2 linked regions of the Homo sapiens genome follow. The protein of the gene in region 2 interacts with the protein of the main gene of each other region in a pairwise test. Each region holds a gene or a part of one and is shown on either strand. Other genes may lie near its edges. The genes, in order: NMNAT1 and SIK1.

Region 1 (3,806 bases), on a different chromosome or scaffold from region 2:
CTCCGCCTCCCAGGCTCACACCATTCTCCTGCCTCAGCCTCCGGAGTAGCTGGGATTACAGGTGCCCGCCACCATGCCTGGCTAATTTTTTGTATTTTTAGTAGAGACAGGGTTTCACCGTGTTAGCCAGGATGGTCTTGATCTCCTGACCTCGTGATCCACCCGCCTCGAACTCCCAAAGTGCTGGGATTACAGGAGTGAGCCACCGCGCCTGGCCTAATTTTTTAATTTTTTGTAGAAACTGGGTCCCACTGTTTTGCCCATGTTGGTGTTGAGCTCCTGGGCTCAAGTGATTCTCCTGCCTTGGTCTCCCAAAACACTGGGATAACAGGTGTGAGCCACCACACCTGGCCTCGATTTTTTTGTTACATAAATGATCATATAATATGCTGATAGGTAGATGGATGGATGGATGCTAAAGCTCACTATTTGCCTATGACATTGAGAAATGGGCTTTTGCATACATCTAGGTGGACAATACAAATTAAGGCTTTTTACAAAGTAATTTGGCAATATCAATAGAAATTTAACTGTATAGGGGAATGAGGTGAAGTACAGAGTGTCAGTTGGGGAAGATGAGAAAATTCTGGAGATAGATAGGAGCGATGGTTGCACAACAGCATGTTTGCAGTTAATATCATAGAACTGTACGCTTGGGTATATTTTACCATAATTTCAGTCAGTTAATTGATCAGCTAATAAGCTGGAATCCCTAAAGAAAGAGAATCTGTGATTATAAAACAATATTGGCCAGGTGTGGTGACTCATGCCTGTAGTCCCAGCACTTTGGGAGGCTGAGGCAGGCAGATCACTTGAGGTCAGGAGTTGGAGACCAGCTTGGCTAACATGGTAAAAACCCCATCTCTACTAAAAATACAAAAATTAACCAGCATGGTGGCATGCGCCCGTAATCCCAGCTACTCAGGAGTCTGACTCAGGAGAATTGCTTCAACCCAGGAGGCGGAGGTTGCAGTGAGCCGAGATCACTCCAGTGCGGCCTGGGGAACAGAGCAAGACTCTGTCTCAAAAAACAAAACAAAACAAATAATATTGATCGTAATATTTCCTGTGCATAAAGTCTAATTTGTTATACCTAGTGTGAAACCTAACTTTTTATCTAGGAAGGTACACAGTTGTCAAAGGCATCATCTCTCCTGTTGGTGATGCCTACAAGAAGAAAGGACTCATTCCTGCCTATCACCGGGTCATCATGGCAGAACTTGCTACCAAGAATTCTAAATGGGTGGAAGTTGATACATGGGAAAGTCTTCAGAAGGAGTGGAAAGAGACTCTGAAGGTGCTAAGGTATTTATGGTGTAATCAACTTTGTCAGTTCTGTGTAAATGGCTAAGCGGCTTATGTTTTTACCATGTTTCAATGTTGCTTACATCTGTGAACATACAGATTTGCAAAACTGTCACGTGTGTTGTAAGCCATTCCTGTGGAAGGTTACTACAAGACTGTAGAGCACAGCACCAAAGGATGGGTCTTCCTTAGCCCCTCTGTGTCTTTCATTATGTTTTAAGTTGTTTGCGGCCAGGCGCGGTGGCTCACGCCTGTAATGCCAGCACTTTGGGAGGCTGAGGCGGGTGGATCAGCTGAGGTCAGGAGTTCGAGACCAGCCTGGCCAACATGGTGAAAACCCGTCTCTACTAAAAATACAAAAATTAGCCGGGCATGGTGGCGCATGCCTGTAATCCCAGCTACTTGGGAGGCTGAGGCAGGAGATACACTTGAACCCCGGGGATGGAGGTTACAGTGAGCCAAGATTGTGCCACTGCACTCCAGCCTGGGTGACAGAGCGAGACTCCATCTCAAAAAAAAAAAAAAAAAAAGATGTTTGCTTGCTTGCTACTATGTGATACCACTGTTAGAAAATAGAGGAAGCCTGCCTGGGCTTTCTGTGCCCCAAATGAGAAAGGGAAAATTGCAAGAAGATGTTATTATCATCAGTCTTCCTAAGTATAAAAGAGACAGGCAGATAATTTAAGGAAGAGAAGCATCCAGTGCTGCTTGATCATGGACAGGCCTGATTCGTGTGCTGCTTCCATGACAGCATCTGGGCAGGGAGTCACAGATCTCTGTGCCCATACCTTTGAAGCAGTTCTAGTTAAGGGTTCAAAAACCAGAGTAAGTGACATCTAATTATTTCTCTTTTTTTTTTTTCTTTTTGAGACGGAGTCTCGCTCTGTCACCCAGGCTGGAGTGCAGTGGTGCATTCTCGGCTCACTGCGACCTCTGCCTCCTGGGTTCAAGCAATTCTCCTGCCTCAGCCTCCCAAGTAGCTGGGACTACAGGTGACTGCCACCACGCCCCGCTAATGTTTTTGTATTTTTAGTAGAGATGGGGTTCTACCTTGTTGGCCAGGCTGGTCTTGAACTTCTGACCTCAGGTGATCCACCTGTCTCAGCCTCCCAACACCTAATTATTTCTTTTCTTTTCTTTTTTTTTTTGAGATAGAGGTTCACTCTTGTTGCCCAAGCTGGAGTGCAATGGCATGATCTTGGCTCACTGCAACCTCTGCCTCCCGGGTTCAAGCCGTTCCCCTGCCTCAGCCTCCCAAGTAGCTGGGATTACAGGCGCCTGCCACCACGCCCGGCTAATTTTTGTATTTTTAGTAGAGCTGGGGTTTCACCCTGTTGGCCAGGCTGGTCTTGAACTCCTGACCTCAGGTGATCTGCCCATCTCGGGCCTCCCAAAGTGCGGGGATTACAGAGGTGAGCCACCGCACCTGGCTGACACCTAATTATCTCTTAATGTTATTTTGATTTTTTTAAACTTTATTTTCTTTTTTTTGTTGGAGATGGGGCCTCGCTATGTTGCCTATGCTGACTGATCTCAAACTCCTGGCCTCAAGCAATCCTCCCACCTAGGCCTCCCAAAGTGCTGGGATTACAAATGTGAGCTACCATGCCTGGCCTGTTGTTATCTTGAGTTTAAAATGAAAGGGCTTTCTGAAAAGCCTTTCTGTTTAGTATCTGTTCTTAGAGTTCTGAACTTTCCAGTGACTGACTGTATCATTTAGGGTTCAGACTAGGAAATAGAAACCCACTCTGGATATTTTAAGTGGAAAGAGATTTAAGTACTTAGGCAAAAAGTACTTAAAAGAGCTGAGGCCGGGCGTGGTAGCTCATGACTATAATCCCAGCACTTTGGGAGGCTGAGGCCGGCAGATCACCTGAGTCCAGTAGTTCAAGACAAGCCTGGCCAACATGGTGAAACCCTGTCTCTACTAAAAATACAAAATTAGCTGGGCCCATACCTGTAATCCCAGCTACTAGGGAGGCTGAGGCAGGAGAATTGCCTGAGCCTGGGAGGCAGAGGTTACGGTGAACTGAAATTGTGCCACTGCACTCCAGCCTGGGCAGCAGAATGAGACTGTCTCAAAAAACAACAACAAAAAAAAGTAAAAGGGCTGGAGAAGTGGAAGTCAGGGTCACTCCTCCGATGTTGCCGTCAGAGTTCAACAAACCAATTCCGCTTCTGCTGCTATTGAACTGTCTCAGTCTCCTGAAGTTGGTGACGGACAGTGGACTCCAGCGTCTAGCCACCACACCCACACTAGAAAGGATTACTGGCTATAAATAGCGCAATAATAGGATCAGGCCGGGCATGGTGGCTCACACCTGTAATCCCAGCACTTTGGGAGGCCGAGGTGGGTGGATCACCTGAGGTCAGGAGATCGAGACCACCCTGGCCAACATGGCAAACCCCGTCTCTACTAAAAATACAAAAATTAGCCAGGCGTGGTGGCACATGCCTATAGTCCCAGCTACTTGGGAGGCTGAGGTGGGAGAATCCCTTGA
Region 2 (4,507 bases):
GAATCACATACAGCAGCAGTAAGAAAATGCACCTCCAGAAAAGACCTCAGCAGCAAACACATGGGCAATTTGTTTCTTTAACGGAGCTAATTCCACACAATGGGCAAAGGAGAAGAACAGGAAGAAAAGGAAGGTACTACCATTAGGGTTCAGCCCTTGAGCAAAGTCAAAAACAAAACCAGCTCAGCCCACTCCTGAGGAAATGGGCTGGGCACGCTGCACAGGCAGTACACCAGTGGCCATGGAGCACACAACTTAAAAATGACAACAGAAACAAAACACAAACCAGGCGCACACGGCATGAATTCTGTGCTTAAAGACACTGAGCAAACTGTCGTAAGCTCCACCAATACTGCTACTTTTATTTTCAATCTAGTGCAGAGGCTTTTGGGGGATAATTTCGAATCATAATTCTCTCTCCTACCACACTGTACACCGAGCTGTCCTAATTGCACAAACACACACAACAACATCCCAGAGTCATCTCACATTCCATTTCATAAGAATCATTACGAGGAACTTCAACCCAACACAAATGGATGAAATAGCACCTGCAAAGAACTTCTTCTGCAAGAAGACTTGATTTCACCTTGCAAAAGTGGTCATTTGTCATTAGGGAGGTGTAAATGATTGCTTTGCTGTTCTAATTAAATTAGTACTTATTTCCTGATGATATAATTTATTAATTTCAACATGAGAACAAAAATTAAGTCACAAAATAAACCAACAGAGAGACAGGGCAAGCCATGTTCCTAGCATGGATTAAATGACAAGCTCCTTGCTCTTACTATGGAAAAGTATTTTCATCTCTCCGTTTTTCATGGAAGAGTTTAAATAGGGAAAACAAATGCTCACTACTGTCCTTGCAAAAATAAACTAATGAAAACCAGTAAGAGCAGCTGGCTTTAAAGTTTAATAATTATCTGCAAAGGCAGAAGTTTCCAGTTTCACTCAAATTTGTCCTTTTATACTAAATGCGTGACCTGTGGCAATACCTACAGATAAGTTTGTCTGTTTTCATAGTAAAGCAAATTTACAACAGACTTCTACACATTTAAAACTGGATCAGGTTAGGATACTAAATAAAATTCTAATGAAGCAAATCTCAATTATGATCCAAAAGCAATAAAATAATTGTAAATATATCTGCACAGCCTATAAAAATCAATCTATTTACCTTATACAACCAAATGCCCAACTTCCACACACTCCCCAAAAGGGAAGCCACCTTCAGAAATTGCAGACTTATGCTGTTGGAAATAAAATATAACACATTTGCCAGGATTAGCAGAGAAAGGCAAGCTGACCCCTTACCTGGTAAAGCTTTATGATGTGTGGATGGTTCAGAAGCTTCATCAGCTGAACCTCACGATAGATTTTCTCCAAATTGCTTGAATCTAATCGTGTTTTATCAATTATTTTTATTGCAACCTACAAATTTAAAAAGAAAAAGGATATTCTGTGGGTTTTTTTAAAAAAAGAAAAGAAACCCTCAACCTAATTTACACATTTCATTTTTTGCAAGTTAATTTCTCAACACTCTGTCTCCAGAAGGTCACAAGAAGTTGGGAAAACATAACCAAAGTAACCACTAATGTTATTTAAAATAATCAGAGTTAAGTAAGTGACTTAAGTATTTGCAGGCTCACTTTACAGGGTTTAGCTCTGAGTCCATGAACCACTGCAATCTTAGGTTGGTCCTTTTTTTTGCTATTATCCTCTCTGCTTTCTCCCAATATATGTCCAAATTATGCAGCAACATAATATAAAGCATTATTTTTCTTTACCGAACTAAAAACGGTTACTATTTACCCACCACGACAATCAAGCCTGGAGCAGTGAATCTGCATGGGGTCCACCCGCCAAAGGTCGGGTCGCCCCGGGTCCAGTGGGGAGGCCCCGCCGGCTGGGTCCCACCGCCCCCACGCACCTGCGTTTTGGTGACTCGATGCCGCGCCAGCTTCACCACCGCGAAGTTGCCTTTGCCCAGGGTCCGCTCGATGTCGTAAAAACCCACCCGGAGGGGCTTCTGCTGGCCCTGACCCTGGCCCGCGGGGTCCGCGCTGAACTCCGACATGATAACCATGGCTCCGCGCGCACCTGCGGGGCCGCACAGAGCTCAGAGCCCACCAGCGCCCCCGCCGCCCGCGGTCGGCTCCATCCGTGCCCGCGGAGCCCCCAGTCCCCACGGGACGCAGGGACCTGCTCCCACGCCTGTCGCCCCCACTCTATCCACGGGCCCCTCCAGCCCCGTGGGAGGTGTGGACCCGCCCCCGCCGCCCGCTCCACCCGGACCCCCGACCCTCTTGAGCCCCGCGGGGCGCACGGACCCGCTCTCATAGAGGCCCCTGCCGCCCGAGTCCGGTTCCGTCCCGATCCCGGGACCCCCTGAGCCGGGATTCCACACTCGCCTCCCGCCGCCCGCTGTCGGTTCCGTCCCCACCCTCGACCCCTTTAGCACCTCTGGGCGCGGACCCGCTCCCACACCTGGCCCTGCCACCCGAGGTCGGCTCGATCCGGATCCCAGGACCGTCCCCTGCCCCGCTCCCACACCCTGCCCCCGCCGCCCGCGATCCGTCCGGTCCCCACCCCCGACATCCCAGGCACCTCGGGGATCGCGGACCCGCCCCCCACACCCGGTATCTCCGCCCGCGGTCGGCTCCAACCTGACCCCCGGCTCCCCAGCCCCTGAGCCCCGCGGACTCACTCCTACCCCGGCCCCCCAACAAAGGGGAGCCCGAGGGCGGCCAGGCCGCCAACCCCGCCCGCGAACCCCGCGCGCGCAAGGCCAGGGACCCTGCGCGGTGGCTGCAACCCCGAGCCCCGGCCCGGCGCCCGCGCGGAGCCCCCACGGCGGCCACCTCCGCCCGCCCGGAGCCCGCCGCTGCCGCCGCTGCCGCCGCTGCCGCCGCCTCACCTCCGCCGCCACCGGAGCGCCCAGGCCAGGAAGCCGCCCGCTCGGCCGCTGGCGCTGCTCGGGTGCCTACTGCTCCGGCTGCCGCCGCCGCTGCTGCTGCCTCCGGGGCCGCGCCGCATGTCAGCCCGGAGCCGCCGCGCTCCGCCGCACGCGGCGCCCGGCCCCGCCCCGGCCCGCCCCGGCCCGCCCCCCGTAGTCCCCGCCCCCTGCCCCGCCCCCGCCGCCCGGGCGGGGGCCGCCCATTGACGTCGCTTTGACGCCAGAGCGACGCGCGGCCGAGCGCCGGGCGGAGGGAGAGCGGGAGATCGGGCGGTTGCCAAGAGACTGGCGGCTCTGACGCGCGCGGGATGAGGCCGTTGCCCTGGCGACCGCGGGCCGGTGACGTCAGGGGCGCCCGCCGCCCGAGGCCCGCCCGCCTGCGCTCCGCCGGGCGCCCCCTCCCGGGCGCTGGGGGCACTGCGGGCGGCCCCACCGCCGAGGGCGCGCCCGCCCCTCCACGCTCGGGCACTCGGGCCGGGTCCCGCGGGCGCCTTGTGCTCGCTCCCTCCAGGAGGGGACGGCTCTCGGGCAGGGGTCGCCGGCCCCTCCACGCGGCCTGCGTTCGTCCAGACTCAGAGCCTCGGGACGTGCGGGGGCCCGGGGGCCTCGCGGGCTCGCGCGTGGGGCTGGCGGCGCGGATGCCCTGGGGCGCTGCAGACCCCGAGAGGCCGCTTGCCCGCGGGGACGTCAGCCGCTTTTGCTGTTAAAATCTGAAATGTTCAGCAAGTTAGAAACTTGAAACCTAAGGAAGCGTGACCGGCCGCTCTGGAAGCCCCCGCCGCGCGGCCGGTCCCGGCCCCGGCCCTCAGCGGCGCTGGCGTCTGCGCGTCCCGGGGCTGCCCCCGCAGCATGTGGGGCTGGGACCCTCTTCCCGCGCGGGCCCCGGGCGGACGCTGCGGGCGGTGACGGAGCCAGGCCGGCCGCCTGGGTAGGGGACGGGGGCGCGGGACCACTTGCTTGCCCGTGGCCGATGCCTCATCCGAACGGAAAACGTTTTCTTCAGGGGAGACAGAGGCTGTGGGCGAAGGTATTTTTTAAGCCTGAGGACCCATTTGGGAGTTAGATTCTGGATCGAGCCTAGGGTCAGTTTTCCTTGTGTTAAATAACACTACTTCACAGAAGGGGGAACGAGAATTCAGGGGAGTTGGCACAAAACTTGGAACCCTTCTCGGGAGGCTTTCCTGCCTGGACGGACGCCTGGGAGGAGGGCCCGGAGAAACGAGGATGAGCTTCTCCTCATTCGCCCGAGGGTCTGACCACAGATTTCCCAATCGCCACACACACACACACACACACACACACACACACACACACACGGGTTGTTTGGGAGTCAGTTGGTTTTCAAAGGCTTTCAAGGAAATGAAGAGTCCCAAAGTTTTCCTTAATCGTTCAGAGTGTTTTTCTTTGTCCCAGGTTTATATACCAAGAATACGGGGGAATATTTTTAGTTCCTTTCAGCTGAACAGTGTACAACTGCCTTTTTTCCTTTTGGAGGTCCCAACACCCTGTTAATCCGCTCCTAGGAGAACTAAACAAAAACAAGGCTGGACG

Evidence for each region.
Region 1: the proteins of SIK1 (region 2) and NMNAT1 interact in a two-hybrid assay, tested with the Homo sapiens proteins (one large-scale study listed by BioGRID).

What each region holds. Positions count from the first base shown.
Region 1 is NC_000001.11:9,974,471-9,978,276, forward strand, and holds part of NMNAT1 (nicotinamide/nicotinic acid mononucleotide adenylyltransferase 1), read left to right. Parts: intron 1-1,121; coding exon 1,122-1,305; intron 1,306-3,806.
Region 2 is NC_000021.9:43,424,093-43,428,599, forward strand, and holds the start of SIK1 (serine/threonine-protein kinase SIK1), read right to left. Parts: upstream 3,040-4,507; 5' UTR 2,918-3,039; intron 2,101-2,917; 5' UTR 2,087-2,100; coding exon 1,931-2,086; intron 1,432-1,930; coding exon 1,315-1,431; intron 1-1,314. UniProt on the Homo sapiens protein: Serine/threonine-protein kinase involved in various processes such as cell cycle regulation, gluconeogenesis and lipogenesis regulation, muscle growth and differentiation and tumor suppression. Phosphorylates HDAC4, HDAC5, PPME1, SREBF1, CRTC1/TORC1.